Linked DNA regions of Homo sapiens. The protein of the gene in region 6 interacts with the protein of the main gene of each other region in a biochemical or structural test. Each region holds a gene or a part of one and is shown on either strand. Other genes may lie near its edges. The genes, in order: EP300, TUBB3, PPP5C, CASP3, LRRK2, MAPT and AKT1.

Region 1 (3,500 bases), on a different chromosome or scaffold from region 6:
AGATATCCACCCACCTCGGCCTCCCAAAATGCTGAAATTACAGGTGTGACCCACTGCGCCCAGCCTTTAAATATTTATCTTAAAAAATAGTATCAAGATGTTCCTTTAAATAATTCATCAAGTTTCCTTAAAATGACAAGAGCTGCCTCATGGAGCAATAATAGATACATTCGTATCTGCATCATATGGGGCAAATGTGGGCAGTAGGATTGCGGTTTTATTTTTAAACCATTTTCATTTGATTAGTCTCAAATACTTAAAAATCAGAAGATTTTGCATTTAAAAAGTCTGAATTTCTGGCTGCTTTAAAAAAAAAAGGACATGTCTGGCAGACTTGACCCCCTTTCTCCTACAGTGACACCTGTCTATAGCTGCACTCATGGCTGACTCTAGAAGAGCTGTGTTTTCTCTCCACTTCAGTCCTCACCATTCTCTATTGTTTTGGGTACTTAAAACAGTTTTACTTGGTATTAGCTGCTTGGCACTTGCCATTTAGCTTGGAACACCTATCCATATTGTTGACTTGAAAAAAAAGTTACTCATATCTTAGGTGAAAACATTGTTTTGTAGATAGTGTGCGTGAATACAGATATGTGTGGGGAGGAAGAGGAAAGGTTTATCTCAAGGTCATTTGTTGGATCCTGATTCATTTTTCTATTGATTTTTAATTTTTATGTAATGAGCATGGATTATGCATATACTTCTTATAAAGCTTGCAGAGTTACAGATAAAAGTTTATATGAATAAATGTTGAGCATTTCCTCTCTCAGTTTTGCTCATTTACTAAAGGTTGAAATTTGTCTGAAGGGATGGACATCTCCTTAGAAGAGCAGCAGGTCTTCCTCTCCTATGCCTGAGGCTTGAATGTACAGCCCTTGATGGAGGGTATGGCCAGGGTGGAGCCAGGTCACTACAGACATCTGTCCTTTCCGAGGGTGCTGTAAAAATATTTTCTCTGTGCACTATGTTGAAAGTACTACACTAGAGCATGTGCAGATAATCCAGGAAAAAGACCTTAGAATTTATGTATTTATATTTTAGGTTTTTTTTGAGACGGAGTCTCGCTCTGTCGCCCAGGCTGGAGTGCAGTGGCACGATCTCAGCTTACTGCAAGCTCCACCTCCCGGGGTCATGCCCCGGGTTCACGCCATTCTCCTGCCTCAGCCTCCCGAGTAGCTGGGACTACAGGCGCCTGCCACCACGCCCGGCTATTTTTTTGTATTTTTAGTAGAGACGGGTTTCACCGTGCTATCTAGGATGGTCTCGATCTCCTGACCTCGTGATCCGCCCGCCTCGGCCTCCCAAAGTGCTGGGATTACAGGATATTTTATTTTTTTAAGAATTATTTCTGTTTTTGTATTTAAGAGGTACATGATATGTAGTGTGGTATAATATGCATATTATTTAAAATCAATGTTCACAGTTTATGTGCATAAAAACGTTGTGCTACATGATCAAATTCGGCCACCATTAGACATGATTCATAGCTATTATCCATGGAGATACTCTGTTGCATGCCAACCAGACTCAGACTTTGTTAAACAATAACATATTAAATGCTATGATGGCCTCAATTTTTTTTTTTTTTTTTGAGACAGAGTCTTGCTCCATCGCCCAGGCTGGAGTGCAGTCGTGTGATCTTGGCTCACTGCAACCTCCGCCTTCCAGGTTCATGCGATTCTCCTGCCTCAGCCTCCTGAGTAGCTGGGATTACAGGTGCCTGCCACCACGCCTGGCTAATTTTTTTGTATTTTTAGTAGAGACAGGGTTTCGCCATGTTGGCTAGGCTGGTTTTGAACTCCTGACCTCAAGTGATCCACCCACCTCAGCCTCCCAAAGTGCCAGGATTACAGGCGTGAGCCACTGTGCCTGGCCTATAATGGCTTCAATAGCTTATTTTTCTATCAACATTGAAAGCACCCGGGCTCATAAAGGAATACCAACAAATCCACTTGGAGGCATTTTTCTGTATTCCAGAAATAACATTTTCTTCAAGCTTCTGTCTAGTTCAGAGCTTTATTTTGTGATTCATACTCAATTTTCAAAGGTATTATTAAAAATATTTTGTGGGGTTTGTGTGTGCAGTGAGTTTTTGTTTGGTTAAGGGAAGATGGTGCAAAGATACTTATTTCTCTTTTTTACTCTAGATGGCCCTCTACCTGACCCAAGTATGATCCGTGGCAGTGTGCCAAACCAGATGATGCCTCGAATAACTCCACAATCTGGTAAATAGTGAAAAAAATTTTTTTATTTTAAAAGAATCCCCGGTGTACTGCAAGATAATACTTGCTACCTGAACACCCGCTTTATGCCAACAGCAAGTGTCATGATTACCTGCCCATAGAGGAAGAGGGGGTGAAGAGCAGGTTGGCTGGCAGATCACAGGGCAGGTGACATTAAATGATCAAGTATCCATTAAAAAACAACTGCAGGCTGGGCATGGTGGCTCACGCTTGTAATCCCAGCACTTTGGGAGGCCGAGGCTGGTGTACCACCTGAGGTCAAAGTACGAGACCAGCCTGGCCAATGTGGTGAAACCCTGTCTCTACTAAAAATACAAAAAAATTAGCCGGTTGTAGTGGCACGGGCCTGTAATCCCATTTACTCTGGAGGCTGAGGCTGGAGAATCACTTGAACCCAGGAGGCGGAGTTTGCAGTGAGGCGAGATCGCGCCACTGGACCCCAGCCTGAGTGACAGCAAGACTTCGTCTCAAAAAAAAAAAAAAAAGCAGATTGTAAAATTTGTAAAATTCAGTTTGGAGATCCTGTTAGTTGATAATGTCTGTTTACTGCTACTGTGAATGAGACAGATTTATTTATACTTAGAAGGTTGAAAGCCAGTTTATTAGTCCTGATAGAATCAGGGCCAGGTGCGGTGGCTCACGCCTGTAATCCCAGCACTTTGGGAGGCTGAGGCGGGCAGATCACAAGGTCAGGAGATAGAGACCATCCTGGCTAACACAGTGAAACCCCCGTCTCTACTAAAAATACAAAAAATTAGCTGGGTGTGGTGGCGGACGCCTGTAGTCCCAGCTACTCAGGAGGCTGAGGCAGGAGAATGGTGTGAACCCAGGTGGCAGAGCTTGCAGTGAGCGGAGATTGCGCCACTGCACTCCAGCCTGGGCGACAGAGCAAGACTCCGTCTCAAAAAAAAAAAAAGATACAGAATCAGACATAAGAATTCTATCTTTTATTATTCAATTTCACAAAGGCATTCAGATCTAACATTTTGCTCATATTCACAGGTTTGAATCAATTTGGCCAGATGAGCATGGCCCAGCCCCCTATTGTACCCCGGCAAACCCCTCCTCTTCAGCACCATGGACAGTTGGCTCAACCTGGAGCTCTCAACCCGGTTAGTTTGACGTCTTTGGTAATCTCTTTGGCCTTTACCTGGTATTTTGAAAATCCTGTTTGTTCCTACTTTATAAATTCTCACAGTCATTTAAACAGACCATAACTCCTAGTTCTTCTGTAATTCTTCTGTATTTAACTCTACT
Region 2 (3,500 bases), on a different chromosome or scaffold from region 6:
CTGCGGAGCCGCGGGCCGGGCGGGAACCGCATTCGGGTCCTGGAGGGGCTTGGAGGCCCCAGTCTCGCAGCCCCTTCATCGGGGACCCCCGCTCCCACCTGCCTTGGCCACTGCCCTCAAAGCCCGGCCCCGCTTTCCCCAGGACCCCAAGCGCTGCGCGAGGTCAGCACCAAGGACAGCGCCCGGGCCGAGCGCCTGGCCTCGAACGCCGGGTTCTGCTTTGTGTTTCCAGGTTTTTGTTTTTGGTTATGAGAGGAGGCCTGGCTCTGTCGCCCGGGCTGGCGTCCAGAGGCGCGATCTCGGCTCACTGCAGCCTCGGCCTCCCGAGTAGCTGGGACCGCAGGCGCTCACCACCACGCCTGGCCACAATTTTCCTTTTTTCTTATTTTCTTTTAGATGGAGTTTGGCTCTTGTTGCCCAGGCTGGAGTGCAGTGGCGCGATCTCGGCTCATTGCAACCTCCACTTCCTGGGTTCAAGCTATTCTCCTGCCTCAGCCTCCTGAGTAGCTGGGATTACAGGCGCCCGCCACCACACCTGGCTTATTTTGTACTTTTACTAGAGATGGGGTTTCTCCATCTTGGTCAGGCTGGTCTCAAACTCCTGACCTCAGGTGATTCACCTGCCTCAGCCTCCCAAAGTGCTGGGATTGCAGGCATGAGCCACCACGCCGGGCCGATTTCCTTTTCTGTAGTGATGTTAACAATTTAGTTTATAAAATTATATTTTATTGTTTATTAAATATGTAACATAGGCCAGGTGCGGTGGCTCACACCTGTAATCCCAGCACTTTGGGAGGCCGAGGTGGGTGGATCACCTGAGGTCAGCACTTCAGGGCCAGCCTGGGCAACATGGCAAGACTCCGTGCCTACAAAAAATAAAAAACAAAAAAAATTAGCTGGACATGGAGGCACGCCGGCCTGTGGTCCCAGCTACTTGGGAGACAGAGGTGGGAGGATCACCTGGGGGAGGTGGGCAGAGGTTAAAGTGAGCTGAGGTCATGCCCCTGCATTCTAGCCTGGGCAATAGAGCAAGACCCTATCTAAAAAAAAAAAAGGAACAATATATTTTATTACTTTATCTCAAATTATAATTTTATTAATTTTAACTACAAAAGCAATTAATATATTCTCCTGGTTAAAAAAAACCTTAAATATTGCAGATAAACCTGGTGCCCATCTAGCCACCTCTCTCTATCCAAGTGGGAACAAATTTCTTTTTCTATCCTTCTGGTCCATTTTTTTTAAGTGACCTGTGCATATGGTTTTAAAACTTTAAATAGTATCTAAAACATTTGAACAAAATGAAGCCAACATGTGCTGAATGTTTTCATGTCAAGCTTTGTGCTAAGGCCTGGATGTGGGCACCATTCACACGTTCATCTCACAGATGAGAAAACAGGTCCTGCGAGGCACGCGCCTGGCCCACAGCTGTGCTCGTGCTGGGTCTTGAATCCACTCTGCTCCATTGCTCCTGCTGCCCTGTGCCTCGCTCTGCAGAGGACTTCCCATAGATGTGTTACTCTCTCCACCCCTCCTTTACAGGGGCTGGTGGTTGTGGGTTCCCTGGAACCATAAATTTGGGGTGTCCCAGTGCTTTGGGGAGCAAGGTCCCCGACTCAAGTGGACTGCCAGCAACTAAATTAATGGGGGATCCTCAAAGAGAGTGTTAGGGAGGCAAGCAGTAGGTGGGAAGCTTGGACAAGCCCCAAATGCCTCAGGGACCTTTCTGTATTTTTTTTTTGAGACAGGCTCTTACTCTGTCGCCTGGACTGGCATGATCTAGGCTCACTGCAACCTCCACCCCCCTGGCTCAAGTGATCCTCCCACCTCAGCCTCCTGAGTAGCTGGGGCTATAGGCATGCGTCACCATGCCCAACTAATTTTTTTGTTTTTTGGTAGAGACAGGGTTTCACCATGTTGCCCAGGCTGGTCTTGAACTCCTGGACTCAAGTGATCCACCTCTCTTGGCCTCCCAAACTGCTGGGATTATAAATATGAGCCACCATGGCCAGCTGATTTTTTTGTTTGTTTGTTTGAGATGGAGTCTCACTCTGTCACTCAGGCTGGAGTGCAGTGGAGTGATCTCGGCTCACTGCAACCTCCACCTCCTGGGTTCAAGCAATTCTCCTGCCTTAGCCTCCTGAGTAGCTGGGATTACAGGCACCCGTCACCACACTGGCTAATTTTTTTTTTTTTTTTTTGAGGCGGAGTCTCTATCTGTTGCCCAGGCTGGAGCACGGTGGCACAATCTCGGTTCACTGCAAGCTCCGCCTCCCAGGTTCACGCCATTCTCCTGAGTCAGCCTCCCAAGTAGCTGGGACTACAGGTGCCCGCCACCGCGCCTGGCTAATTTTTTGTATTTTTAGTAGAGACAGGGTTTCACTGTGCCAGCCAGGATGGTCTCGATCTCCTGACCTCATGATCCGCCCACCTCGGCCTCCCAAAGTGCTAGGACCACAGACAGGCGTGAGCCACTGCGTCTGGCCTAATTTTTGTATTTTTAGTAGAGATGGGGTTTCACCATGTTGGTCAGGCTGGTCTCGAACTACTGACCTCGTGATCCACCCGCCTTGGCCTCCCAAAGTGCTGGGATTGCAGGCGTGAGCCACCGCGCCCGGCCTTTTTTTTTTTTTTTTTTAAGATAGGGTTTCACTCTTGTCCCACAGGCTGGTGTGCAGTGGCTTGATCTCAGCTCACTGCAACCTCTGCCCCCTGGGTTCAAGCGATTCTCGTGTCTCAGACTCTGAAACAACTGAAATTACAGGTGCGCGCTACCACGCCCGGCTAATTTTTGTATTTTTAGTAGGGACAGGGTTTTGCCCTGTTGTCCAGGTTGGTCCTGAACTCCTGACTTCAAGTGATCTGCCTGCCTCAGCCTCCCAAAGTGCTGGGATTATAGGCATGAGCCACCACACCCAGCCTGAATCATTTTTGTAATTTAAAAATTTAACGCAAAAAGAATAAAACTTAGCAATAACAAAAATGCACAAAAGATGGAAAGAAATCCACCCCTGACCTTTGTGGAGAGATGACCTCTGATAACAGTCTCAGGGTGAACGGGCACCTCTGATAACAGTCTCAGGGTGAACGGGCATCCCGAGACACTGTTAGCAGAGGTGGTCCATGTCCATGCTGTCCGCGTTACAATAATTACACTATGTTTATTCTTAAGGTTTTAAAAACATTTATTTTTAACAAATTTTCTTTGAAAAGCTACCGTGTGCACGTGAGAAAATCTCAACAAGACCACAGGGCACCCGTGAGAAGAAGCTCCTCCCAGTCTGGGGCCCCTCCCCAGGCACAGCCTTCCACACATCTACCAGAGGCACCCACGCATAGAGAAGCACCCACAAGCAGTTTTCTTTCTTTCTTTTATTTGAGACGGTGTTTCCTTCTGTTGCCCAGGCTTGAGTGCAGTGGCATGACATAAGCTCACTGCAACCTCCACCTCCCGAGTTCGTGTGATTCTCCGCCTCAGCCTCCCAAGCAGCTGGGATTAC
Region 3 (3,500 bases), on a different chromosome or scaffold from region 6:
GGTTGGGACAGGCAGGAGGGGCAGGCTGAAGAGATGTCTCTGGGCTCAGGGTAGCCCTCAGCTTCCCCATCTGTGAACAGGGAGACTGGGCGTCACCCAGCCCAGGGCCTGTCCTCGCAGGGTTGGAGCACTGCCTCATGCCTCTTCTTCTGTCTCCGCAGCCAAGGACTACGAGAACGCCATCAAGTTCTACAGCCAGGCCATCGAGCTGAACCCCAGCAATGCCATCTACTATGGCAACCGCAGCCTGGCCTACCTGCGCACTGAGTGCTATGGCTACGCGCTGGGAGACGCCACGCGGGCCATTGAGCTGGACAAGAAGTACATCAAGGGTTATTACCGCCGGGCTGCCAGCAACATGGCACTGGGCAAGTTCCGGGCCGCGCTGCGAGACTACGAGACGGTGAGCTGGGGAGTGGGCCAGGCCTGGCACCTGAGCCAGGCAGATACTGAGGGCTGGGCTGGCGGGGACGGGTGTGAGGAGCCATTCACTCCTCTACTTACCACTCAGCCAGCCAGCAAGTGCCTGTGGGGCCTTGGGCCCAGGCCAGAGTACCCAGGCCACAGCTCTGCTCAGCCATCTCACATTTTGTGACCCTGAGCCAGTTACCCCGCCTCGCCACACCTTCCTTTCCATATCCGTGAAATGAGGAGAACAAGAGGATCAGCCTCAAGGGTAGCGGTGAGGAAAAGTGAGCTTTTGCCTTTCACACGAGTAGACCAGTACTTGGCCCGGGGTCAGTGTCCTGTGATGGTTCACCTGATGGTTACTGTCATTGTTAGTGCTGGTGCTGGACAGGAGCCACACAGCCTCTCTTCTTCTGGTGGAGCTTGTCTTTCAGGGGCAGGCAGAAAACCCACCACTGAATAGGTTAGCAGAATAATTGCAGGTGAGGATCTGCACTTTGAAGAAAAGAGGAAGGGCAGTCGGGCACAGTGGCTCACGGCAGTAATCCCAGCACTTTGGGAGGCCAGGGTGAGAGGATTGCTTGAGCCCAGGAGTTTAAGACAAGCCTGGGCCACATAGGGAGGAGACCTCATCTCTACAAAAAATACAAAAATTAGCCAAGCGTGGTGGCACGCACCTTTAGTCCCAGCTACTCAGGAGGCTGAGGCAAGAGGATTACTTGAGCTCAGGAGCTCAAGGCCGCAGTGAGCTATGCTCTCACCACTCCACTCCAGCCTGGGCGACACAGTGAGACCCTGTCTCAAAAAAAAAAACAAGAAGGGTGATATGCTGCCAGGGACAGCAGACAGGATATGTGTGATATGCTGATGAGGGAGGGGACCTAGGGCACAGTGAGAATTCGCTAGTGCCCTCACCCACCTAATGAAAATCCTGACGGTATGAGGCTCTGCAGAGCGAGCACACACCTTCACACCAGGTGTGCTCTGCATCTTCCTTCAGGGAGGCTGGCTGAATCATTACAGCACCCTGGGACGTGGGAACTGGGATTACTCCCCTTGCACAGATGAGGAAACAGTCCCTAAGGGGTGAAGTCACCTGCCCAGTGACCCCCACCTGGTTAGTAGCAGAGCTGGGATTTGAACCCAGGAGGCCTGGCCTCAGGGCCTTATCTCTCCCACCTCAGAGTTCGCTCCCTGAGACGGGGCCGTGCGCTTGTCCTGCGCATGGGGATGGTGCAGCAGGGGGCTTGGTCAGTGTGTGTCGAGAGGATTGTTATCCTGCCCCCCGACACAGACACACTTCACTCCCTCCTTCCCTTGCAACCATCACACTCGGAGCTGCTTGTGTCGTGTAGGGAGGGGCAACCAGGGAGCTGGGAGCCGCGAGTCTGCAGTTGGTCGCGGGGCTGAGAAGCACGAGTCTGCAGTCGGTGGAGCCAGCTCAGACACTGTCCTGGCTGTTGGCCGCTGGCCTGGGGTGGAGGGTGGACTTCAGGCCAGGTGAAGGCTTGAGCTAAGCATGAGTCCAGGGGACACATGTTAGGATGGGGGCAGAGATGTGGCGGGGGGTTAGGGCGACACCTAGAAGGGTGGGGGCAGGGGCAGCAGAGCAGAGGCCTTCCCAGCTTGGGCTCCCAAGCCATTCTTGGCCAAGCCCCTCCCTCATTGTCTCTTCCTGTCCTAATCTAGAAAATGGTGACAAGAGGAGTGGCCGCCTCCGGATGGCTGTGGCTGTGATGACATGGTTGAGTAAAGGTCACGAGCTGCAGGGCTCAGTAATGAGTAACCAAGGACAGTCGGTGTTGGGTTGGGGCAGGGCTCCAGGTGGGAAGGGGGCCTGGGGAGACAGTGGGGCAGAAGAGAGGAGCCCCAAGGACAGGTTTAGGGCAGGGTCTTCATCTCGTGTGGGGCTGCAGGAGCATCTTTCCCCAGGGTAAGGAGCAGGGGCTGCAGGCAGGGTCTTCGTCAAGTGTGGGGCTGCAAGAGTGTCTTTCCCCAGGGTAAGGAGCAGGCTTTTCAAGACTCTGGCCCAGTCTAGGGCCCAACCCCGCATACTCCCAACCCCGCATACTCCCTGAGGCTGGGCTGGTTGGCTTCAGCCATCTTGTGGGTGTGCCACGTCTGAGCTGTGTCCCAGGCCTGGCGGATGGCAGGGAGGGTTGAGGGGGTGGGGAATTCAGAGTCTTTTACAGAATACCCAGCACCTAAATTGTCATGGCCCATTTCCCCATGGGGGCTCTCCCAGCAGCATTGGGGACCCCCACATGAACATGAGGGCTTACCTGTCATCAGGCCATCCATATGCCTGCAGGCCTTCAGCCTTGCTCCTTTCTGCGCAGTTCTTCAGGCTCCATGTGCCCTGGGGCAGTTCATCTTCCCAAGACTCTACCTCCTGCTTGCTGGATGCTAGAGTTTCCTCCTAGACCAGAAGCTCGCCAGGGAAGCAGAGCAAAGACGTGACCTTGGCCTTGGGCGGGGGAGCTCCCCTTAGCCTCGGTTTCCTCAGCGGTCTGCTCACTCTGGGCCCAGCACTGCTGGGAGCCCTTTGTGCACCTGAATTCAGCCTGAATTCAGACTGAGGCCTAGAGAGGAGATGTCCCTCCTCCAAGGTCACCCAGCAGGGAAGTGGCAGAGCTGAGACTTGAACCCCTAGTCCATGCTTGTAACTGTTTCTGGGCCACAATCAGTTGAATAGCTTCAGCACTTTTGTCTTCATCAAACAGAGAATTAAAAACGGTTCATTGTTTGGAGGAAGTGTGTATAAATATTGTTTTGTGGAAATGACTTTTCATTTACACAAGTACAGATGAGTGATGGATGTGATATAAAAATCCCTATTTTACATGTGGGCTGCAGGCAGAGAGTCTGCGGTCACCAGTGCAGGGGCTAGATGGGGCAGGCTCTGGGCTCAGGACGCCTAGGTTCACAGCCAGCTCAGATTGGGTAGCAGCTGCATGGCTCCTAGTGCCTTTTTTCTCAGCCTTAGTGTCCTCATCTGTTAAAGGAGGTGAGAATATAGGAATAACAACCAAAGTGTTTTTTCTTTGTTTTTGTTTTTTGTTTTTTGTTTGAGAGAGAGTCTTGCTCTGTCA
Region 4 (3,500 bases), on a different chromosome or scaffold from region 6:
TAGTGGAGAGTGCTCTGTACTGTCTTCCTGGTCACGTGGCCCTTGCCAGAGGAAAGGAAAGGATGGTTTGTTTGTATAGTACAATGGAACTTATTTCAATGTATTCTGTATTTGATTTTACATTCCTGTTCTCATATTTTTACCTTAATTACATAACAAATATTAAAAGATTGACTTCACCAGGCCCAGTTACAATCGCCAGTTTGATAATTCTTATACGTACTCAAATGAATTCAGAGACCAGATGGGAAAAGATTTTGATAAAACCTCTGGTACATCACAACTGAAGTCTTTTCTTGTCCAAACTATTGTGAAACAGATGTTCTTTCTGTTTCATTTGCTAAATCTGGAAACGTGACTGCTTTTGAGACTTTGTCCTCTCTGACAGGTAATAAATATAATCCTGATATTTTTCAAGTTGTTTGACAGAAGTGTAATCTCCCCAGAAGTCCTGCTGGACAGGCTTCACTTTTCCTTTGGAGGAACACAGAGATACAGGGAATATGTTTTAATGACATATACCTAACGCTGAACATGAAACCAGTTATTTTACTTTTATTATTATTATTTTTAGAAACAGCCTTGCTGTGTCACCCAAGCTCAAGTGCAGTGGTGCGATCATAGCTCACTGCAGCCTCCAATTCCTATGCTCAAGTAATCCTCTTGCCTCAGCCTCCTGAGTAGCTGGGACTACAGGTGTGTGCCACCATGCCAGGCTACTTGTTTTTACTTTGTTATAGAGATGGGGTCTCTCTGTGTTGCCCAGACTGGTCTTGAACACATGATCTCAACCATTCCTCCCACCTTGGCCTCCCAAAGTGCTGGGATTACAGGCGCGAGCCACTGTGTCTGGCCTATTTCACTTTAGAAGTAAATTGAATGCCACATGCGAAGTTTGTTAAATTTTTTTAAAAAAGGAAAGAAAACACAAAAGTAAACTACCTAGTCGCATCAGAAATGCCATAGTCATTTTTGCCATTTTTTCATTCATTAGAATTCAGTGCATTATGTTATTTTGTTATCTCTGCAGTAACTTTCTATCATGTTATTTATTTTCTTTGTCTTATTTAAAGCTTCTGAGATTATGGATTTTTGTTTCCTTCCCTGAAGTTAAGTGTTATCATTCCTATATAGTACTAAGCTGTCTACAGAATAGTGGGAGTCTGCCCTCTTGAGTTGGGAAGATCCTAGTTTGAATCTTGGCTGTGCGACTTTAAAGTTCATTAACTTCTCTTAGCCTCAGTCACCTGAACTCTGCAGTGGGGATCCTTATGCCTCAGAGTGTCATTGGGAGGACTCACGAAAATACGCTTGTACTTTGAGTTCAGTACCTAGCCTGTATGAGCCAGCATTAAGAGGGACAGTCATCACGCAGCGCTTTGCACACAGCTCTCACGCCACATCCTTTGGCTACTGTTTTGGTAAATCTTTACTAGTAAATGTTTCTTAAAAGCATTTACATTCATGGACATGATTCAGAAACTAACAGTTGTTTTTTAGGTCTCACTTTGAGATTTAAAAACCCTTAGGGCAGAGACCAGATTTTATTTCTTACCTCAGAGTTTCCCTGTAGGACAGGAACCAGCAACAGCCTAATGAGCTGATTAAGAATTTTAGAGATTTAAAATTTAAATTAGGATTGCCAGTTTTAGAGACTGGCACATAAATGTTTTCATTTAAGGCAGTGACTGTTTCCTTTAGGATATGATTTTTTATCTTTCTAAGATGAGATCACCATCCTCAGAATAATTTGTACCCCGCTGGGCACTAGCTAATGGAGGTGATGTCATGCTAAGCAGCACTTCAGTGAGTTTTGCGGGAACCAAAGCTCTGCTCCCAGGAGTGTGGATTTGGTGCTTTCATGTGGAAAAAGCGGATGATGACAAGTAGAGAGCAAATGTGCGCATGTCTGATGCTGTAAGGATTTCCTTTACCATCATATAAATTTTTAAAGTATATCAAAATAAACTGATAACTGAGAAAATATATGTTGTTCAGATACTAATAATGAAGTTAATGAAGTCCACTATAGTATTTGTCCCTGAGAAATCTTTATCAAATATTTTAAATCCTATTGTAAAATAATGTATTTTTTCTTTCAGTTTTAGAGACTGGCAATCCTAATTTAACATCTCCTTTTGAATTCCCCACCACAGGCACACTTTCACACATTCACTCTTTAATAACAGGTTGTTTCAAATTGTTAATACTTTATAGCTTAATATAGAAATTTCACTTTAGAAATTAATTTTTATTTCTCTGCCTTAATGCTATAGATGTTGTAGTCTGCTTTACTTCAGTATTGTAATGAGTAGTTGGCTAACCACCATGTAAATAGGGAGAACATTCTAGTTTTTTACTTGTGTAGGAAAACACAGCTTGAAATGTCTAAGTATCTATTTTAGAGTGAAGTAAATTTATACTGACAATATTTTTTTGTGTTTGAAGACCTGACTGTTACAGCGTTGGTGGCAAGTGTTAAGGGATCCAGGAACTAGACAAGTGATTCTGAGACCTGAGTTCCAGGTTTCTAAGTAATATCAGTTGGTCTACTGAGAACTTTGCCATAAACATATGTGTTCAGAAATTTCCTTTCTTAGCAGCAGCATCCTGAATTGAACAGAATTACACACACATCAGCCCAGTAAGAAACAATTCATGTTAAGTCCATTGCTATGCCAGGATAAATCTTTTAAATCACAATTATTTTTCCTATTTATATTTTGTCAAATAAGAATGTTCTAAAAACCAAAATTTCTGTTTTCTTTTTTTTTTTTTTTTTTTTTTGAGACGGAGTCTCACTCTGTCGCCCAGGCTGGAGTGCAGTGGCGCGATCTCGGCTCACGGCAAGCTCCACCTCCCGGGTTCACGCCATTCTCCTGCCTCAGCCTCCTGAGTAGCTGGGACTACAGGCACCCACCACCACGCCTGGCTAATTTTTTATATTTTTAGTAGAGACGGGGTTTCACCGTGTTAGCCAGGATGGTCTTGATCTCCCGAACTTGTGATCCGCCCGCCTCGGCCTCCCAAAGTGCTGGGATTACAGGCAAAATTTCTGTTTTCATTTAAGGCAGTGACTATTTCCCTTAGGATGTGATTTTTTTATCCTTCTAAGATGAGATCACCATCCTCAGAATAATTTGTACCCTGCTGGGCACTAGCTAATGGAGGTGATGTCATGCTAAGCAGCACTTCAGTGAGTTTTGCGGGAACCAAAGCTCTGCTCCCAGGAGTGTGGATTTGGTGCTTTCATGTGGAAAAAGCGGATGATGACAAGTAGAGAGCAAATGTGCGCATGTCTGATGCTGTAAGGATTTCATCTACCATCATATAAATTTTTAGAAGTATATCAAAATAAACTGATAACTGAGGCAATGTATGTTGTTCAGATACTAATAATGAAGTTAATGAAGTCCACTATAGTATTTGTATAGTATTTGTATATTACAGTACTCTGAAAAGCTGGTCACTATTTAAAGTTTCCATTACCAGTCACAAGG
Region 5 (3,500 bases), on a different chromosome or scaffold from region 6:
GTAAAACTTTTGACTCTAACTTTTTTTTTTCTTTATCCTGGGCACATGTATGCTATTTTTACTGAATTAGATAGCTTTGGTATTTATAAAAATTGTATCCCTCTTATTCATAATTTCCTGAAAATGAAGGGCTATTGTTATCTTTGATAATTTATGCTTCAAGTAAAGAAGTGTGGCTCTTTGGCATCTGTATTTAGCAAAATTTGCTTTGTATAATTTTAATGATGCATAATGGTGGTGGTGTCATGTTTTAATAATTTAAAATGTTGTTTATGTTATCATATGTAAATAGCATTTATCTCTTAATTGGTGGTAAAATTATTAATGTATACTTTATGGTTCTAGGGAGGTAATGGTAAAAGAAAACAAGGAATCAAAACACAAAATGTCTTATTCTGGGAGAGTGAAAACCCTCTGCCTTCAGAAGAACACTGCTCTTTGGATAGGAACTGGAGGAGGCCATATTTTACTCCTGGATCTTTCAACTCGTCGACTTATACGTGTAATTTACAACTTTTGTAATTCGGTCAGAGTCATGATGACAGCACAGCTAGGCAAGTTTCTTTCCTTTAGATATTTTTCATATTCTCTAAGTCTTATAAAATATGCCTTTATTTTACGTTTACATTTTCTCTGAACTTTCCAGTGTCATATGGATGGTCTTGGAGGGTCACACAGTGAAACATAAGACTGGTATAAATTGTGAATAGGGTCATTACAGAAGTGGAGGGAGTAAATGCTCTCAGTCCCACAAGAGAAGCAGATTACTGCAGCTGAACACTCAGTTTGGGTCTTACTTGCTTTTTTCCTTTTTACCTAAGGCAAAAATGGGAAATACATGGTATTGAATATATTTTACTTTTTGAGCAAAGAAAATAAAGAAAATGTTTGTTTTAATCATAGTCTAGCCTCCCAGCTTGTTAAAGAATCTCATTTGGTTTTTCATTCTATAACAAATCTTTTTTCTTGCAGCAATACATGCTGAACTGCACAACCTACAAATATTGACAAATCATATTTTACTCAAACTTTGTCTTTTTTTGCTTCTATTTTTATATTTAAATATGATAAAATTGTGATAGCACATAAAATATATTTTCTGCATAAATATATTTGCGTCTTCCTTTGATAATAATTTGTTTTAGAAAATAACAATAATAGCATATATACAAAAGTTTACAAAAACGACACTATGGGGTTTAATTCTGAAAAAAACTAGAATTTATGTAACTTTAGCAAATAATGAATGTTTTGAACATGGTGAAGAAAATATATTCATTGCAAGTATATGTGAAAGAGGAACATGTGTTTTTCTAGCACCTTCACCTATTTTTCATTTATAGACTTTAGAGTTGCACAGGAGTTACAATTAGATGCTCTTAATGACTGTAAACTATTAAGATACATGTCCACACAAGCAGAGCAGTAGGTCTCTCAATAGGTTGTCTCAGTAGTCTTATTCTACCAAAGTTGTTGCATTCTCTAGTTGAATTGTATGTACTTTGGGACCCAAATAGCTTGCTTATAACTGAAGTTATAGTGGAATGTCTATGGGTTATAGTTTGATTTTAAAATAAAGATCAATTGGAGGATAGCCTACAAGGTGCTGCATGAGCTGGCTTCACTGTACCTCTCCTGCCTCCATCATCTACCACATTCCTACCAGATCTTGCTTGTCTAGATGAACATCCAGTTCTTCTCAATTACTATGCTATATTTTGCCTCAGGGATTTGCACATGCTGTTTATTTCTTTGCTTAGTTAACATAGCTTTTTTTCATGCTTATTTAACTCATATGCTTTGAAATGTTAGCTCCTGTGTCAAAACCTCTGAGAAGCCAACACTGATTAGGTCAAAGTTCCCGCTTTGGGTTCCCATAACAGCTTTCTTGCATAGTTTTGATCATGGTCATATTTTTTTTTCATTAATGCTAGTCTCTTCACTAGAATATAAACTCCAAGACGGTTGGGTTAGTGTGTTTTTGTTTACCCCTTTTTTCCCAGGATCTAGCCTAGGGCCTACATAGAAGACTTTTGATGCAAATTTGTTGAATAAATTAGTGAATGATTTGAAAAGAAAATATGATATTTTGACATAGTATCAGTATATCCATCCATCTAAGTGTCCATCTAAATACTCATATTTGTACTAAATACTCATATTTGTACCTTACCATATCCAAAGAACTTTTCACACACATTACCTCGTTTAACATTGTAACTTTGGGAAGGGTAATGTATAAATACTGAGCCTATTTTATAGAAAGGTTAAGCTGTTTTCTCAGACTCACATAATTAAGAATTGCAGCAAGGAGTGGATCACAGATTTTGTTATTTTTTAAAAAAATGCTGGTCTTTATTCAATATAATTGAAGGGTCACCTAGAAAATAGAATTGTGAATTCAGTTCCAAGGTATTTGTGTCTTAAACTATGAACAACTTTACTTTTTTTTCAGGCCAGTTTAATATATAGTTTTAACAGAAAACTTACATATTTTGTTTTTGTAAAGGAAGCCTTAAAAATGTCATGCTGGTATTGGGCTACAACCGGAAAAATACTGAAGGTACACAAAAGCAGAAAGGTAACATTTAGAAGGATACTGTTTTCCAAACAGGGCAATGATGTGAATGATGGTAACATATTATGTGTTTCATAAATTTGTAGAAAATATTACATATGGTATAATCAGGAATTTTAATTGGTAGTTTATAGTGTAAAGAACTTAGACATAAATTTTCAAAATTACAAGTGATATGAAGTGTTAAATATTTATATTTTCAGCTGAAGTAGAGGTGTCAATCACTAGCTCAACCTTAAACGAAATGTGAATATTTTTTACAACTTATCTATATCTACATAATGTCTAATTTTGAACAGTGTTTGAAAAAGCTTTTATTTCTTTTAGAATATGAAATGTTAATTTATTAAATGTTGATACTCTATTTGAAATTTAATAGTTTCTATAATGTATTATAAAACTTTTCCAAGTATAGTTTTTTATAAATAATAATTTAGTACATTAGTTATAGCTGTGTTTATATTTACATTTATCTAAGTCAACTAAAAATACATGAGCCAAACTGAAATAAAATAAGAATGTTTTATGATGGATCTTTGAAACATGATTTCATTTTTTTCTTTTTCTAGAGATACAATCTTGCTTGACCGTTTGGGACATCAATCTTCCACATGAAGTGCAAAATTTAGAAAAACACATTGAAGTGAGAAAAGAATTAGCTGAAAAAATGAGACGAACATCTGTTGAGTAAGAGAGAAATAGGAATTGTCTTTGGATAGGAAAATTATTCTCTCCTCTTGTAAATATTTATTTTAAAAATGTTCACATGGAAAGGGTACTCACATTTTTTGAAATAGCTCGTGTGTATGAAGGAATGTTATTATTTTTAATTTAAATATATGTAAAAATACTTACCAGTAAATGTGTATTTTAAAGAACTATTTAAAACACAATGTTATATTTCTTATAAATACCAGTTACT
Region 6 (2,640 bases):
TCCTGGCCAGGCGCAGTGGCTCACGCCTGTAATGGCAGCACTCTGAGAGGCTGAGGCGGGCAGATTGCTTGCGTCCAGGAGTTCAAGACCAGCCTGGGCAACATAGCAAAACCCCGTTTCTATTAAAAATACAAAAAATTAGCCAGGTGTGGTGGCATGCACCTGTAATCCCAGCTACTCGGGAGGCTGAGGTGGGAGAATCACCTGAGCCTGGGAGGTCAAGGCTGCAGTGAGGTGAGATTGTGCCACCGCACTCTAGCCTGGGCGATAGAGCAAGACCCTGTCTCAAAAACAAACAAAAAACAGTCCCTGGCACTCTGGGCCAGGCCTGGCAGGGCAGTTGGCAGGGCTGGTCTTTCTCTGGCACTTCATCTCACCCTCCCTCCCTTCCTCTTCTTGCAGATTGAAACCCACAAGCTGACCTTCCGCGAGAACGCCAAAGCCAAGACAGACCACGGGGCGGAGATCGTGTACAAGTCGCCAGTGGTGTCTGGGGACACGTCTCCACGGCATCTCAGCAATGTCTCCTCCACCGGCAGCATCGACATGGTAGACTCGCCCCAGCTCGCCACGCTAGCTGACGAGGTGTCTGCCTCCCTGGCCAAGCAGGGTTTGTGATCAGGCCCCTGGGGCGGTCAATAATTGTGGAGAGGAGAGAATGAGAGAGTGTGGAAAAAAAAAGAATAATGACCCGGCCCCCGCCCTCTGCCCCCAGCTGCTCCTCGCAGTTCGGTTAATTGGTTAATCACTTAACCTGCTTTTGTCACTCGGCTTTGGCTCGGGACTTCAAAATCAGTGATGGGAGTAAGAGCAAATTTCATCTTTCCAAATTGATGGGTGGGCTAGTAATAAAATATTTAAAAAAAAACATTCAAAAACATGGCCACATCCAACATTTCCTCAGGCAATTCCTTTTGATTCTTTTTTCTTCCCCCTCCATGTAGAAGAGGGAGAAGGAGAGGCTCTGAAAGCTGCTTCTGGGGGATTTCAAGGGACTGGGGGTGCCAACCACCTCTGGCCCTGTTGTGGGGGTGTCACAGAGGCAGTGGCAGCAACAAAGGATTTGAAACTTGGTGTGTTCGTGGAGCCACAGGCAGACGATGTCAACCTTGTGTGAGTGTGACGGGGGTTGGGGTGGGGCGGGAGGCCACGGGGGAGGCCGAGGCAGGGGCTGGGCAGAGGGGAGAGGAAGCACAAGAAGTGGGAGTGGGAGAGGAAGCCACGTGCTGGAGAGTAGACATCCCCCTCCTTGCCGCTGGGAGAGCCAAGGCCTATGCCACCTGCAGCGTCTGAGCGGCCGCCTGTCCTTGGTGGCCGGGGGTGGGGGCCTGCTGTGGGTCAGTGTGCCACCCTCTGCAGGGCAGCCTGTGGGAGAAGGGACAGCGGGTAAAAAGAGAAGGCAAGCTGGCAGGAGGGTGGCACTTCGTGGATGACCTCCTTAGAAAAGACTGACCTTGATGTCTTGAGAGCGCTGGCCTCTTCCTCCCTCCCTGCAGGGTAGGGGGCCTGAGTTGAGGGGCTTCCCTCTGCTCCACAGAAACCCTGTTTTATTGAGTTCTGAAGGTTGGAACTGCTGCCATGATTTTGGCCACTTTGCAGACCTGGGACTTTAGGGCTAACCAGTTCTCTTTGTAAGGACTTGTGCCTCTTGGGAGACGTCCACCCGTTTCCAAGCCTGGGCCACTGGCATCTCTGGAGTGTGTGGGGGTCTGGGAGGCAGGTCCCGAGCCCCCTGTCCTTCCCACGGCCACTGCAGTCACCCCGTCTGCGCCGCTGTGCTGTTGTCTGCCGTGAGAGCCCAATCACTGCCTATACCCCTCATCACACGTCACAATGTCCCGAATTCCCAGCCTCACCACCCCTTCTCAGTAATGACCCTGGTTGGTTGCAGGAGGTACCTACTCCATACTGAGGGTGAAATTAAGGGAAGGCAAAGTCCAGGCACAAGAGTGGGACCCCAGCCTCTCACTCTCAGTTCCACTCATCCAACTGGGACCCTCACCACGAATCTCATGATCTGATTCGGTTCCCTGTCTCCTCCTCCCGTCACAGATGTGAGCCAGGGCACTGCTCAGCTGTGACCCTAGGTGTTTCTGCCTTGTTGACATGGAGAGAGCCCTTTCCCCTGAGAAGGCCTGGCCCCTTCCTGTGCTGAGCCCACAGCAGCAGGCTGGGTGTCTTGGTTGTCAGTGGTGGCACCAGGATGGAAGGGCAAGGCACCCAGGGCAGGCCCACAGTCCCGCTGTCCCCCACTTGCACCCTAGCTTGTAGCTGCCAACCTCCCAGACAGCCCAGCCCGCTGCTCAGCTCCACATGCATAGTATCAGCCCTCCACACCCGACAAAGGGGAACACACCCCCTTGGAAATGGTTCTTTTCCCCCAGTCCCAGCTGGAAGCCATGCTGTCTGTTCTGCTGGAGCAGCTGAACATATACATAGATGTTGCCCTGCCCTCCCCATCTGCACCCTGTTGAGTTGTAGTTGGATTTGTCTGTTTATGCTTGGATTCACCAGAGTGACTATGATAGTGAAAAGAAAAAAAAAAAAAAAAAAGGACGCATGTATCTTGAAATGCTTGTAAAGAGGTTTCTAACCCACCCTCACGAGGTGTCTCTCACCCCCACACTGGGACTCGTGTGG
Region 7 (3,500 bases), on a different chromosome or scaffold from region 6:
CCGGGATGCTGGGACCCAGGATGAGGTGCTCTGGGCTCTCGAGAAAGGGCTGGGCCTAGGCCAGGAGTGGGTGCCGGCCGCAGGGGCACCACCTGGACTCCCTCAGGCTGGTCGCTGTCCGAGAGGGGCCGGGGAAGAGCTGCAGGCCTGGCTGCCTTCGGCAGGCTGTGACCCAGCAGGCCAAGGCCGAGTGGGCGGGGGTCGAGGGAAGCTGCCTGGGGCGCGTGGGTTACGCGGCAGACGCTCCTGAGTGTGTGGGCAGCGTGTCCAAGCCACGGATCTGGGTGCCTGGCCGGGCCCGGGTGACACGGGACCGTGTGTCCATGCGGCTCACGGAGGGTCCAGTCTCCGGACATCTGAGTCCTTGCCATGCCCTACCCCGGGCCCATGCCTGGCATAGACCCCCCAGTCCAGGCCTCAGGGCAGCCCCCTCACCACTCCTGCTGAGTTAGCCCCAGGCGTCCCGGTGGGGAGTATGGAGGCTGGTCTCTGACCCCAAGCAGGTGCCTAGGCTGGGCCTCCTTCCCACCCCCTCTCCCCGCCTTGAAGTCCTGGCACTGGCTGTCCCTGCGGGGGGGCACTGAGGCAGGGAGAGAGTGGTTCCTACCCCAGTGTGTTACTTCGCTTTGGTGAGCGACATAGAACCTCACTGCATCCCCAGCTGCTGCTCAGCCATCCAGCTGGTCCTGGGGTCCCTGCGTGAGGTGGGGGACCTCAGAGGGTACAGGCCACTCCCCTTCATCCTGGAGGAGGCCTTGGCTTTGCTGAGTAAACACCCTTGAGAAGAGGTCTGTGGGGGACTCTGAGCCCACTCCAGAGAGCAGCTGCTGCGGAGGGCCCCGCAGGGCTAATTGTTTGTGTGCAGATGGAGGCTGCTCATTACCCCGCCAGGATGAGGGGCCCAGCAGGACCCTGAGGGAGGGAGCCCGCAGACTCTCCCCTCAGCCTGTGGGAACCTTTGGGCTCCAGGCCAGGGCTGCCTGTGCCTCCTGGGCCTCAGTTTTTCCCAGGCTGTCAGGTGAGGGTCAACCCCAGGCTGCGTCTAGGTGGCTTCAGTGTGAGACCCGCGGGCCCTGGGCTGGTTAGTGCCAAGCTCTGCCTCCCCTGGGGGAGCGTTGAGGGTCTGGAACGGCCCCCGTGGGCAGGCCAGGGACAGAGATGGGGAGGCAAGTGTGCTGGCTCCTGGTGGGAGGGCTGGGCAGAGAGTGGGGGTCCCAACAGCCCTGGGCCTACCCGGGAGAGGGGCAGGAGGCACAGGCTGGTGGAGGTCATGGCATGGCTGTGGTGGAGGCCGCCAGCATCAGGGAGGTTCCTGTTTTGGGAGCTTGTTGAGTTCTCACTTCAAAAACAACAAAAGAGGAAGCCGAGGTGGCCTTGAGTGGGGGTGAGGGGTCACTGCTGGCCCCAGCCCTGGACCTTAGCCCCCACGCCTGGTGGCTCCTGAGTGGACAGCTCTTCTTCCTGTGTGTTTCTTGGTCACTGGCCCTCTCTGGGCAGGGATGCCCTGTGGGGGGCTGGACTCCGGGAAGGGAAACTGAGGCCCAGGAGAGTGGACAGAATGTGGGTGGAATGATTCCTGTGCTGGGGCCTAGACCCCCGTACACCTTCCACTCTCAGGAGAAGCCTGGCCGGGTTGCATCAGGCCGGGTTCCTAGAAGTCCTGCACGAGGCTGAGCGGAGGGAACTGGCGCGGCCCCCGCTGGCGTCCCCTCTGCCTGGGCACACCCGGCCCGGCTTGGGGCCAGCACCCTGCCCTCGGGCCCTCCCATAGCTGAGACTGGTGGCTGTGGCTGTGGCTCTGGGCCTGCTCCCCAGGCCACCCTGGGTGGGCAGCTGCCTGCTGCTTCTGTCTGCTTGGACCATTGTGCCTAGTCCCATGGCCTCAGGAGAAGGTTCCCCCAGCCCAGCGCTGGGGCCCCGGGCAGGTTGGCAGAGGGCCCTGGGGCTCCAGGCCAGGATGGGGCTGTTAGGCGAACCCTAGGCCCCTTACTTCCTCATCTCCAACGGGAGTTCCCTTCCCTGCCATGCCGCCTTTAGGTGTGTTTTCCTTGAACCTTAAGGAATGATAGGTTTGGATTTCAGAAACGTTGGAATTGAGGGGGTTGGGAGTTCATGGGTGACTCTGCTGCCAATGTTGCGGGCTTTGGGGTGGGATCCTTGGGGCGCTGTGTTTGGGCTCACACACCCCCCAGGCGGGCCCGGTGACTGCAGACCCCACCCATACCCTGTAACCTGGCGGGCCCACCTGCCCAGGCCCTCAGCTGGTTGTCCAGCTCAGGGGTGGAGACACCCCCTGGGCAGGCCTGGCGGGGAGGTGGCTGCTCCCTGGGCCTGGAGAATGCAGAGAGGCCCTTCGGCTGGCCAGGGTCTGGCTGGCCTCCCCACAGACTGGGGCCAGGGGCACAGCAGCCAGGTGTAGGGCGCGGAGACGCTGAGCTGCACAAGCTTGGTGAGGTGTGGGGTGAGGCCACGGGGGTCAGGGCCACAATGTCCCAGCAGGCCGGGGGATCAGAAGGAGCACCCTCCACAGCTGGCCGTGCTCTGGGGGCCCTCCTGCCCCAGGCGTGGCTCCAAGTTGGGGCAGAAACAAGATGGTGGGGAGATGGAAGGCCCCTCTGTGGCGGGTGCTTCCCATGGTCGGTGTGGAGGACGAGGTCCCTACTGCCTGGTTCCAGTTCCCCCAGCAATGCAGGGCACTTTTCCTGGGGTGTCAGGGATTGAGAGGCCAGCACTGGAGCCCTTCAACCGCCAGGGGCCCTGCCCAAGAGAGACGGGAGGAGGGAGGGGCTGTGGGCATGGCTGCGTGCCCCCGGCCGAGCCCCGGAAGGAGCCTGTGCCCGTGCCCACTTCCTTTCCCGAGGGCAGTGTCTACACGTGGGACACTGTGGCCAGCCCTCCCTCGCAGCAGGCACTGTGTGCTGTCCCCATGCCCAGCTTCCTCCCACGCAGGGAGCGAGGGTGAGGGCCCTGGGAACCCACTGGGTGGAGGGCACTTGGCAAAGCCTGCTGCAAGTTATGGGGAGAGTGGGCGGGGGCAGAGTAGGAGGCGCCAGGGAGGGGCTGCAGCCTCATCTGCAGGGGTCCTGAGTAGGCAGGGTGGGCCATGACATGGGTGGGGCTTGTTTGGGGCAGACCAAAAATGAGGTGGGGGACAGGGACAGGGACAGGGTCTTGGGATGTGCTGGGCTCTGCGATGGATGGGTGTGTGGCAGGTGGGGTGCCTTTGCCGGCCCGAGGGGTGGGTGACGGGCAGTGCCTGTGGGGGAGGACATCCAGGCCCAGGTGGTCTGTCAGGGGCAGCACCAGGGAGGCCCAGTACCCCACCCAGTAGAGCCCCAGGAGAATGGAAAGCTGAGACCCAGGTGCTTCCCTGGAGTGGCAGGAAGAGAGGCCCCAGCGCCTCCGGCTGTGCCTCAGCGAGGTGGACGGGGTCATGGTGGTGCCGCCTGCCCGCACCATGTTCCTCCCGGGGTGTGTGTGTCGGGCTGAGGCCTGCTCCA

Evidence for each region.
Region 1: of the proteins of MAPT (region 6) and EP300, one has a biochemical effect on the other in vitro, tested with the Homo sapiens proteins (3 studies listed by BioGRID).
Region 2: the proteins of MAPT (region 6) and TUBB3 form a complex in vitro, tested with the Homo sapiens proteins (3 studies listed by BioGRID, with this or other methods).
Region 3: of the proteins of MAPT (region 6) and PPP5C, one has a biochemical effect on the other in vitro, tested with the Homo sapiens proteins (3 studies listed by BioGRID).
Region 4: of the proteins of MAPT (region 6) and CASP3, one has a biochemical effect on the other in vitro, tested with the Homo sapiens proteins (3 studies listed by BioGRID).
Region 5: of the proteins of MAPT (region 6) and LRRK2, one has a biochemical effect on the other in vitro, tested with the Homo sapiens proteins (3 studies listed by BioGRID and IntAct).
Region 7: of the proteins of MAPT (region 6) and AKT1, one has a biochemical effect on the other in vitro, tested with the Homo sapiens proteins (3 studies listed by BioGRID and IntAct).

Annotation. Positions count from the first base shown.
Region 1 is NC_000022.11:41,144,592-41,148,091, forward strand, and holds part of EP300 (histone acetyltransferase p300), read left to right. Parts: intron 1-2,147; coding exon 2,148-2,225; intron 2,226-3,245; coding exon 3,246-3,355; intron 3,356-3,500. UniProt on the Homo sapiens protein: Functions as a histone acetyltransferase and regulates transcription via chromatin remodeling. Acetylates all four core histones in nucleosomes. Histone acetylation gives an epigenetic tag for transcriptional activation.
Region 2 is NC_000016.10:89,926,342-89,929,841, forward strand, and holds part of TUBB3 (tubulin beta-3 chain), read left to right. Parts: intron 1-3,500. UniProt on the Homo sapiens protein: Tubulin is the major constituent of microtubules, protein filaments consisting of alpha- and beta-tubulin heterodimers. Microtubules grow by the addition of GTP-tubulin dimers to the microtubule end, where a stabilizing cap forms.
Region 3 is NC_000019.10:46,353,587-46,357,086, forward strand, and holds part of PPP5C (serine/threonine-protein phosphatase 5), read left to right. Parts: intron 1-161; coding exon 162-403; intron 404-3,500. UniProt on the Homo sapiens protein: Serine/threonine-protein phosphatase that dephosphorylates a myriad of proteins involved in different signaling pathways including the kinases CSNK1E, ASK1/MAP3K5, PRKDC and RAF1, the nuclear receptors NR3C1, PPARG, ESR1 and ESR2, SMAD proteins and TAU/MAPT.
Region 4 is NC_000004.12:184,642,948-184,646,447, reverse strand, and holds part of CASP3 (caspase-3 isoform a preproprotein), read left to right. Parts: intron 1-1,725; exon of another isoform or gene 1,726-1,905; coding exon of another isoform or gene 1,906-1,917; intron 1,918-3,500. UniProt on the Homo sapiens protein: Thiol protease that acts as a major effector caspase involved in the execution phase of apoptosis. Following cleavage and activation by initiator caspases (CASP8, CASP9 and/or CASP10), mediates execution of apoptosis by catalyzing cleavage of many proteins.
Region 5 is NC_000012.12:40,364,497-40,367,996, forward strand, and holds part of LRRK2 (leucine-rich repeat serine/threonine-protein kinase 2), read left to right. Parts: intron 1-345; coding exon 346-554; coding exon of another isoform or gene 555-637; exon of another isoform or gene 638-2,509; coding exon 2,510-2,581; exon of another isoform or gene 2,582-3,147; coding exon 3,148-3,269; 3' UTR 3,270-3,500. UniProt on the Homo sapiens protein: Serine/threonine-protein kinase which phosphorylates a broad range of proteins involved in multiple processes such as neuronal plasticity, innate immunity, autophagy, and vesicle trafficking.
Region 6 is NC_000017.11:46,023,554-46,026,193, forward strand, and holds part of MAPT (microtubule-associated protein tau), read left to right. Parts: intron 1-402; coding exon 403-618; 3' UTR 619-1,563; coding exon of another isoform or gene 1,564-1,635; 3' UTR 1,636-2,640. UniProt on the Homo sapiens protein: Promotes microtubule assembly and stability, and might be involved in the establishment and maintenance of neuronal polarity.
Region 7 is NC_000014.9:104,785,749-104,789,248, reverse strand, and holds part of AKT1 (RAC-alpha serine/threonine-protein kinase), read left to right. Parts: intron 1-3,500. UniProt on the Homo sapiens protein: AKT1 is one of 3 closely related serine/threonine-protein kinases (AKT1, AKT2 and AKT3) called the AKT kinase, and which regulate many processes including metabolism, proliferation, cell survival, growth and angiogenesis.